2 linked regions of the Homo sapiens genome follow. The protein of the gene in region 2 interacts with the protein of the main gene of each other region in a biochemical or structural test. Each region holds a gene or a part of one and is shown on either strand. Other genes may lie near its edges.

Region 1 (4,544 bases), on a different chromosome or scaffold from region 2:
CTGTGCATTGTGGGATGTATAGCAACATTACTGGCCTCCACTCACTAGTTGCCAGTTGCATTCCCTCCTCCCAACTGCAAAGATTGAAAATGTCTCCAGACATTGTCAAATGTCCCTTGGGAGGTTAAATAGCTCCTGGGTGAGAGCCACTGCTCTAAATGCTGACAAATGAAAAAGACAATTTGCTCTCTGGGGGAGTGACTGACAAATACAAAGGTGTTGGGGGCGCTCTCCAACTATAAGGCTTGTTCTAGTGCCCCACCCACCAGCCCTTAGCCAACAGAGGATGCTTTTTGTTTTGTGGTGGCACATCTACCTCTGCTCTCTGTATATTCTACAACCAGTGCTACTTCTAGATTATAAATCATTATTATTATTATTTTGAGACAAGGTCTAGTGCAGTGGCATGATCTCAGCTCACTGTAACTTCTGCCTCCCAGGCTCAAGCCATCCTCCCACCTCAACCTCCTGAGTAGCTAGGGACTACAGGCACGCACCATCATGCCCGGCTAATTTTCGTAATTTTTGTAGAGACAGGGTTTCACCATGTTGCCCAGGCTGGTCTCGAACTCGTGAGCTCAAGTGATCCGTCTGCCTTGGCCACCCAAACTGCTGGGATTACAGGCACAAGCCACCATGCCCTGGGCCTATTTTTTCAATTAAGACTAATTTTATAGTCCTGTACCCATGAAACTCCTTAAATGTGGCACCTTGCCGAGAACCCAAGCAACTGGGTTCTCCATAAATGCTTTGTGGCCACTGACTCTGATATACGAGTAAAGCACCAGGCAATTCCGTTTATTTAGCCAGCATTAACCTAGCATCTTTATGTTCTAGGAATTCTGGGGACACTTTTTTCTTTTAACTTTAAGGTTGAAGTCATGATCACCACTTTATACATGCAGTCATTGAGGCTCAGAGAAAAACTAAGTGACCTGTGCCTAAGATCACACAAGTGGCAGAGCTGGGGTGGATTCAGGACTGAGTCTGTTGCTCTTACTTGACTTTCAAGTTAACAGCGTCTCCCCTACCTTCTGAGGGCTTGCCATGGGCAAGACACCATGCTGGATGTCTAATACAGCCCATTTTAAATCCTCACTGTTATGCCATGAGGCGGGTAACATCATTCCTTTACAGACAGGGAAATAAAGGCTTAAATGAAATCCTTATCCAAGGTTGCAGAGCTGGATATCCCAAAATTTGAATTCAGATTAGCCTGAACTCTGAAGCCCATGTTCTTAGCCACTATACCCTATTGCCTCCTCTTACGTATTAATATAAATGGCCTGCTCCTTTAGGAAGGGTTAGTCAATGGGTTTTGTTTCTCTTTTGAAGTTAGTAGATGATATACTTTAATTCAAGAAGATTTGGATTTGGCCTACTCATACATTCACTTGGGGTTTCTTTTATAACATTAAAAACCCAATCCCAAGCAGGCATGGTGGTGCAGGCCTATAGTCCCAGCTACCCAAGAGGCTGAGGTGGGAGGATCACCTGAGTCAAGGAGTTCAAGGCTGCAGTGAGCTATGATCGTGCCAGTGTACCCCATCCTGGGCAACAGAGCAAGACCCTGTCTCTAAAATAAATAAATAAATAAATAAATAAATAAATAAATAAATAAATAAATAGGCCAGGTGCAGTGGCTCACACCTGTAATCCCAGCGCTTTGGGAGGTGGAGGCAGGCAGATTGCTTGAGCCCAGGAGTTGGAAACCAGCCTGGCAAACATGGCGAAACCCCATCTCTACCAAAAAAAATACAAAAATTAGCCAAGTATGGTGGTGCATGCCTGTGGTCTCAGCTACTCAGGAGGCTAAGGTGGAAGGATCACTTGAGCCTGGGAGGTACAGGTTGCAGTGAGCCAAGATCACGCCACTGTACTCCTGCCAGGGTGACAGAGCGAGACCCTGTCTCAAAAAAATAAATAAATAAATAACCCAATCCTATCAATATCTGTGGGACACCTAGAACTGTCCTATATGACAAATCTCTACTTAGTTGTCAAGAAGTGATTAAGTTAAAATTCCACAACTGCTAACATCACAGCTAATCATTTCTTCCATTTTCTCTTCTCTGGTTCATTCGCTTAGTCAATAACCGCATGGCTAAGAATCTATTCAAAGATTCTAAATGCACATCAAATAATCATACAAATCATAAAAATCATAATATAAGCACCAGGAAGAGTACAGATGAATTTGGATAATTTCTAATGGGAAGGCTGCTCAGGGGGGTAAAGGAAAGGCAAGGAATCTGAGTTCTATAGGAAGGGTTGGGAGTTAATTTTAAAATGTGGAAAGAAGAGCTTCCAGTCCCAGTGAACAGCATGTGCAAAGCCCCTCACCCCACCTCACCCCCGACTAGGTGAAAGGAAACCATGTGCCTGAACCCTCGATAAGGAGCCACAGATAGCAGTAGCCAGGCCATGCAGGGCCTTGTGGACCACAATAAAGAGAAATTAAAGGGCCTGAAGTGTGGGTATAACATGGTCAGATCTACTTTATTTTATTTATTTATTTATTTTTTTTTTTAGGGAGAATCTTGCTCTGTCACCCAGGCTGGAGTACAGCGGTGCAATCACAGCTCACTGCAACCTCTGCCACCACGCCTGGTTAATTTTTTATTTTTTGTAGAGACGAAGTCTCACTATATTGCCCAGGATGGCCTCAAATTCCTGGACTCAAGTGATCCTCCCGCCTCGGCCTCCCAAAGTGCTGGGATTACAGGTCTGAGCCACTGCGCCTGGCCTAGATCTACATTTTTAATGAACACAGAACCAAAATGACTCTGAAGCAACCTTTACCAGGACACAGTTCAAAGATCTGGATCCTGCGAAACAAGTTTGTTTGTTTCTTTTCTTTTTTCTTTTTTTTTTTTCTTTTTCTATTCTCTGGGGTGTGGCACGTCACCCTGGCTGACTTAGCTCCCTTCTTTTTTGGTTTCGTTTGTGAAGTTTAAAGGCCAGATTTATATCAGGCCTGGGACCTGTTTTTCTTTCAAAAGCCCCCCAGTGAACTACCTTATCTCTTTCTAGATCCCTCCTCATTCTCTAATCTCTCTAATCTAACTTGCCAAGGGGCCTGTGGCAAAGGTAGAGCAATCTGTCCTTTTGGGCTTGCTCATATTAAGTGCAGAAACAAGCTGAGAGAGAACCACAGATTTTGCTCTCTTACACTCCCTCGTACCCAATCAAGTCCAGTTAAATTTTTTTTTTTTTTAAAAAAAGCAAATCTGAGATAATGTCACTCTCCAGGTTAAGATTCCTGCACTCCTCAGTGCCCTCTTGGCCACGCACCCCAGCCGGTGGCCCTAGGCAACAAAGGTCTGGCTCAGTTGGCCCACCTCCAAGCTTCCACAACTGCTTTCAGTTTCTCCACTACAAGAAGCTTCACCCCACCCCACTCTGCCCTGCCAAGAGTTCTTAGCAGCCACTGACACTTCCTCCAGGAAGCCAATCCCACCCTACCAGTGCCCCAGTCTATGAACTGTCCTGCTCTGGGTCCGCAACTACTCCAAGAAAGTAGTTTTTCTGAACTTCTCTGTAATTTTGGTTCACTGCCCTCATCCCTAGGCCCCCAACACATGCATACACACACATGCACTTGTGCACACACACAATAAGTAACTCCTGAAGGACAAATTCTGTGTGTCATAGGCCCAGCACCTAGCCCAATGCCTGACACCCAGTTGGTAACCCTCTAAATATTTACTGAATGAATGGATACATAAAAATGAACACTTTCAGCCAGGCATGGTGGCCCATGCCTATAATCTCAGCACTTTGGGAAGCAAGGCGGGCAAATTGCTTGGGCTCAGGAGTTTGAGAACAGCCTGGGCAACAAGGTGAAACCCTATCTCTACAAAGAATACAAATAATAATAATAATAGTGTACTGGCGCATGCCTGTAGTCCCAGCTACTCAAGAGGCTGATGTAGGAGGATCACCTGAGCCCAGGGAGGTTGAGTCTGCAGTGAGCTACGATCATGCCACTGCACTCCAGCCTACGTGGCAGAGTGAGACCCTGTCTCAAAAAAAAAAAAAGACGTTAAAATAAATTTTCTCTTTCTCTTGTTGGGTCATGAAAGTGACCAGGAAACACTCAAATCCCACTTGGAAGTGGTGCTACATCTCACCCATGGAAATTTGAAAAGATCAAAAATATCAATGCAGGCCACATATGCTCATGGTTTTAGACAAAACCAAAACTTCAGGAAAGTTTTCAGATATTAAAGCTACAGCAGGCAGCAGGAAGTCTTTAAGAGGTGCTGGTGATGAGAACCCAATAAATAAATTTTAAAATAAAGCCAGAACAGAAACACTGAGTTGAGACAGTTCCTGCATGAGCCCACTTTGGCTGCGAAACGCCAAGGCCACCAAGTAATTGACCTTGCTCTTTTTTTTCATAGGTTTTTGTGGAACAGGTGGTGTTTGATTACATAAGTTCTTTAATGGTGATTTGTGAGATTTTGGTGTAGTCATCACCCAAGCAGTATGCCCTGTACCCATGACCTTGTTCTTAATTCTGTACATAGCTCGCCCTTCTG
Region 2 (5,590 bases):
CTTAAAAGGAAGTTAATAATACTTGTAACTGAAAGCTTTGTAAGGAATCAAGCCATTTGTTTTTACGAGTCGACCTGATTCCAGTTGGAAGTTGCTGGGGAACATGTATATATCAAACACGCATGCTTCTCAGGAATTTGCAAGGTTTTGGTGCAATTCTTAGGAGCCACTGACCAATGGTAAAGAGAAAGTGATTCAAGAAGCTTCTGGAAAGGAGTTAACAGATAAGGAGAACATGCTGATGAACTCCCAGATAAAGAAAAACAGGGTGTAAGTGGTGGAAACACTGAGAAAGAGAGACAGGGCTCCTGCACAGTGGGTTCAGGAAAAAGTGCCAAAGGGCTGGCCCCAGGAGCAGAGTGAGGCTGAGGAAAGGAAGCAGGGTGCAGGCCAGTTGGCCGTAAAGCATTCCCAGAGTGAAGTGGGGTGCCTGGCTGGAGGGGGTGTTTTGGGGAAAGGATCTGTTCCCAGAGCAAATTTGCCATTTATAACTGAGGGACTGTCATTTGTTGGCCAGAGCCCTCTAAGAAATCCTCCTCAGAAACATACGGCTTTAGAGATTTTCCTGGGACTGGCCAGCTGGTACTGTCCTCAAAACTCAGTCAGGGGTCAGTGGGAAAAGACCCCGAGCTTCCCTCTTGGAGTTCCGGGCCGGCTGTTCTCAGTCTCAAATATCTGACTTCAAGTAGAGAAACTAAAATGAATTTGGCTAAAGCATTTCAAGTTAGGTCACCTAAAACCAGGCACACTGCTTATTCAGCAGGCACCTTCCCTAAGAAATAACCAGTTTGCACAAAAAGCGAATTATACAATCTATAATTCTGGCACTGATCAGAAGAGTGAGATTCAGTTATCAAGAACTCAGAAGTCACCAGTAGTGGAGAAAATAAAACTTGGTTTGTTCATATTTTTTTGTTCCCTTTCAGCTCTGCACAATGTCCATCTGTTTAATGGCCCACCCTGCAATAAGAATTCTTTCATCTGTATTTACAAAACTGTTTACACAGATGCACATACCATTGCACTCTGACAAAGTCTCAAGGCTACAGGGTGAGAAGAAAAAGATAATAGGAAGCATTTAATAACTACCCCACAAGAGGACTTAGTGATGGAACCAAGGGTGGAAAAGACAAGGCTTTGTATCACATTGTAAAGAACGCTTTCATCTTACGCCCTTTATAGCAAAATGAGTTTCTGAATTTGAGATTGAGTCCCATGAAAAAACCTATAAAAAGCACATTTGAGTGCTCCCTTATTTTCAGAAAGTTGCCAGTGGCACATCTTCTGCTTTCCTCTGCTGATCTAGAAGATTCCTTTGGCTGAGTTATTTTTACAACGGTGTCTCAGGGCCAGTTTGCACTGACTTATTGTCAAACTTGCAGGAATTTTTTGAGCCAGTTCTTAAACACAGCCACTATTAACAGTTAAATTATATAACTTCACAATCAAAAAATATGTTAAAAACAGAAGATAAAAATGCAAAACTCATCACTTTCTAATTATCTTACTACATTTCATTACCAATTATACACCTGAGGTTACTTATGTCTCTGGTATCCGTATGCTAGAAATACTACATTACGCTGTGCTATTGCATCTTTGCAACTCGGCATTCAGGGTTCTCACAGTGATGGCTCGTAGTGGGCCATGAAAGCAATATGTACATCACAGACCCAGCAAAAGCTACTGATGAGGGCGTTTTGTTTTTCTCTCATGCAGGCTGTTGCTAAACATTTACCAGCACGCCACTGCATACAGAAGCACAGGGCAGAAGAGATAAAGAAGGAGAGATGCTGTATATAAGCAACCTGATTTTAAGCTGTATATTAAGGTAGTACATCTCAGAACCTCTACAGGTTTTATTTAGTATTTTACTTAAATATGAATTTCTTAATCTCAAGGAGTCATGAATTACCTAACGCAGTATTCTCCTTAGATCTATGCTATGCTTCTTGCCTTGCTCCTTTCTAAGTAATACTAATTGAGTCTCTATCTCTTTAATTGTATATTCGCAGTGTCCAGAGTCATGCGTCTACTGATATTAAATATTAATCACCTGGAAAAGATGGTCAACAGTTTTAATCAAATAAGTTATATTCTGCAAAACTATGTACAGCTGAACCATTCAATATAAGGTAGAAAACCTAATTCCATAAGCTACCTACTAAAATTAGTCTCCTAACTTTACAGAACAAGTACACACATATGCTCATAAAAATGGGATGATCTGATTTAAAGTTTAAGTGAAGCAATTTAATTCAAGCAAAGCGAAAGGGAAATGCTCAAATGTCAGTAGATAGATTAATTTTCCATTTTAGCAACCAATTTAAATGTTTATAAAAGGAATGTTTATAAATGACTTTCTCCACAAATTATAAGTATAGATAGAGTGAGCTCTTTCTAAAAATATTTTGCACAGATGTGCAAAATTAATAGGCTCACCTTAAATCTACTCTAGGCCTTCAGAATTGTTAATAGAAATTTTTTCCAAGAACGCAAAAAACAGTTTCTAGAAAACTGGTATCTGCAGGTTACCTGTGGTCCATGGGGTAGCTGCTATCTGGTATGGACTGCGATGGAGGGAGGTGAGCTGGGAAGGCCCGGTCAGGTTTCGGTGTATGAGTTGAGTTTGGAGATGCATGATGCAGTGGGGACACTGGCGTGCTGGATGGTGTGGGGGGGTTGGAGGGCCTCATTCCCACTTGTGGCTTCTGATCATAGGCACTACCCAGGGGACAAAAGAAGAGAGAACATTTCTTTCTTTGGAGCAATTTTTTAAAAAAGTTTCTAATCCAAAGGAAGAAAAGATATTTTAGACTTAAGTCAAATGGAAATGAAAACTTTGTTGTTGCTATTGTTGTTTAAATCCAGAACAGATAAACTTCAAAATCACAACACCCTTAAACAGAAAATAGGATGATTAATGCAAAACCTTGTAACAGAACAAATATTAAATGTGTATTTTTAATGCATATACAAACAACTTAGTACAGGGAAAATTACGTCCAAAAAAGCAGTGGTATTTTTTCCATCTATTCTTGATATATCTATTTGAGAAAGTTTGATAGATCTTTCCTAAATCATTAAATACTTCTGATATTATATTCTTCTTTTATATTATGTAAGATTTTAAAACAAGAACTAACATCAGCTTAATAAGGCAGAGACCACACCTGGCTTGCTTTTATTTGTGGTGGGATTTTAAGAAGGCAATGCTTTTACTTTATTTTCATTTTATTATATTAAATAAATGATGCTTGGCATTAACTTCCCCACATGGGATAATGAAGATTAATGAGGTAAATTAAAATGTCTGATATATTTAAACTTTCTTAGAGAATAAGTAAAAAATAATGTCATTAGGAATAAAATCCTATTATAGTCTAACTTCTAAACACAGTTACAGAAGAATAAAATGAGTAAGCTTGATTTTACATTATGATTTTAAACTGCTTTCCTAGGTGTAACTTTCAGGAATGTGATTTAGCTAATTTTGGTCATCTATAAAATATTTTACTAAAACTAAATTTTCTTAAATTTTTTTTAACAACAGGGCATTTCTAAGTTAGAATGCTGTATTTCATTTTGCTGGGCGCAGTGGCTCATGCCCCTGATCCTAGCACTTTGGGAGGCTGAGGTGGGAGGATCGCTTAAGCACGGGAGTTTAAGACCAGCCTGAGCAACATGGTGAAACCCCGTCTCTACTAAAAATACAAAAAATTAGCTGGGCGTGGTGATGCATGTCTGTAGGCTCAGATATTCACGAGACTGAGGTGAGAGGATCGCTTGAACTCGGGAGGCAGAGGTTGCAGTGAGCCCAGATTGTGCCACTGCACTCCAGCCTGGCTGACAGAGTGAGACCCTGTCTCAAAAAAAAATAAGTAAAATAAAATAAAAAGCAATCATCAGTACACTTTTTTCTTTAGAAAGAAATATTTCTTTTTGAATTAAATTATGTAATAATTTATTCTGTTGCTCCATCAATGCAACGGAATTATATCCAGCTGCAAAAATCTTTTACAAGGAGTAAAGGAATATATGCTGCACAAGGCAGCTCTTGCTTCAAAGCAAAGTCAACAGTGTTCATATAATGAATTGCATGTTTGGTTCCACCTATGTTCTTTACCAGTATTTCTGAAGAAAAACCCACTTCTTTTGTGAAATGGTTCACCTAACTCATTCTCATGAATGAAGAAACAAATGATACTATTCCCCCATGAAATGCTGTACTCAATAATATTTTCTGTATAGCGATGGAAGTACCAGAATTTATTGCATATGCCATATATCACTGTGGGGACTTTTCATCCCCCAAAAGAAACACAAAATATTCAGGCAATTCCTTTATTATTGATTTGTGGATGTCAGATATGGCATATAAAACAGTGATGATTTCACAGTCACAATTCTGATTAATGCTGAAAGGCAATGACAATTCTATATCTAACTGCCATTGACTAGAAATTCCTCAATATGTTAAATAATTATGCTGTGGATACACAGTACTTGTAAGGAGAAAATGCAAAAACAAAACTAAACTATAAAATAAAACTCAGATCGATCAATACTGTCTTATCTGAACTCATTATGCTTTAATAGTTACCTTCTACAAGAGACCTTTTTTATAAAACTTTGCAGTTTCAATTGAGCTAGCTCATAATTTCAGGCTCTGGTGAACCTCTTAGAAAAGCAAATATAAAAGACAAGTTTGCAAGAACAAATGGTAATAAAATATCTGAGCATTGGTCAGCTGCCATAATGGCACAAGTCTATGTTTCTCTTTTATTTTTGAGATGGAGTCTCGCTCTTGTTGCCCAGGCTGGAGTGCAATGGCGCGATCTCGGCTCACAGCAACCTCCACCTCCCAGGTTCAAGCGATTCTCCTGCCTCAGCCTCTGTAGTAGCTGGGATTACAGGCATGCGCCACCATGCCCAGCTAATTTTGTATTTTCAGTAGAGACGAGGTTTCTCCGTGTTGGTCAGGCTGGTCTTGAACTCCCGACCTCAGGTGATCCGCCCAACTCTGCCTCCCAAAGTGCTGGGATTATAGGCATGAGCCACTGCGTCTGGCCTATGTTTCTAGAATCTTACATATCTTGGACATAAACAGCGTATGCAATAAATATCTGAGGAATTATTTAATAGAAGACCCCTTTGGGTCATAATGTACAATGAATCTGAATTGATATAACTTATAAAACAGTATGAATATTTGGAATAATTTGTGTAAGTTTGCAAACTAACTTCTTTTAAGAACTAAGTTTCTACTGTAATTGAGAGTGATAATACTCAGTAGAGACAGCCAACTTTTTCTTTATGCAATTAAAGGCCAATATGAAAAGTAGCATCATACAATTTACTTTGAAGGGTTTTTAATGAACATATATGTGATCAAATTTTCTAATAAATGAACAATGCACTTTTACTGCACCACCCTTTATTATCATCAGAAGAACAACCAGCTTTTTAATAGATAATAGCCTCTGCTAAGCCTTATGAAATTCCAGTTTTATTGCAATTGTCCATGAACTCATCTTACAGATCATCTGCAAAGCCTGGCAGATAACTAATGTACTGCTCAGACCTGCCA

What was found. Proteins that work in one complex are often made in the same cells at the same time.
Region 1: the proteins of ETV1 (region 2) and KAT2B form a complex in vitro, tested with the Homo sapiens proteins (one study listed by BioGRID).

Annotation. Positions count from the first base shown.
Region 1 is NC_000003.12:20,042,402-20,046,945, reverse strand, and holds part of KAT2B (histone acetyltransferase KAT2B), read right to left. Parts: intron 1-4,544. UniProt on the Homo sapiens protein: Functions as a histone acetyltransferase (HAT) to promote transcriptional activation. Has significant histone acetyltransferase activity with core histones (H3 and H4), and also with nucleosome core particles.
Region 2 is NC_000007.14:13,933,173-13,938,762, forward strand, and holds part of ETV1 (ETS translocation variant 1), read right to left. Parts: intron 2,725-5,590; coding exon 2,536-2,724; intron 1-2,535. UniProt on the Homo sapiens protein: Transcriptional activator that binds to DNA sequences containing the consensus pentanucleotide 5'-CGGA[AT]-3'. Required for olfactory dopaminergic neuron differentiation; may directly activate expression of tyrosine hydroxylase (TH).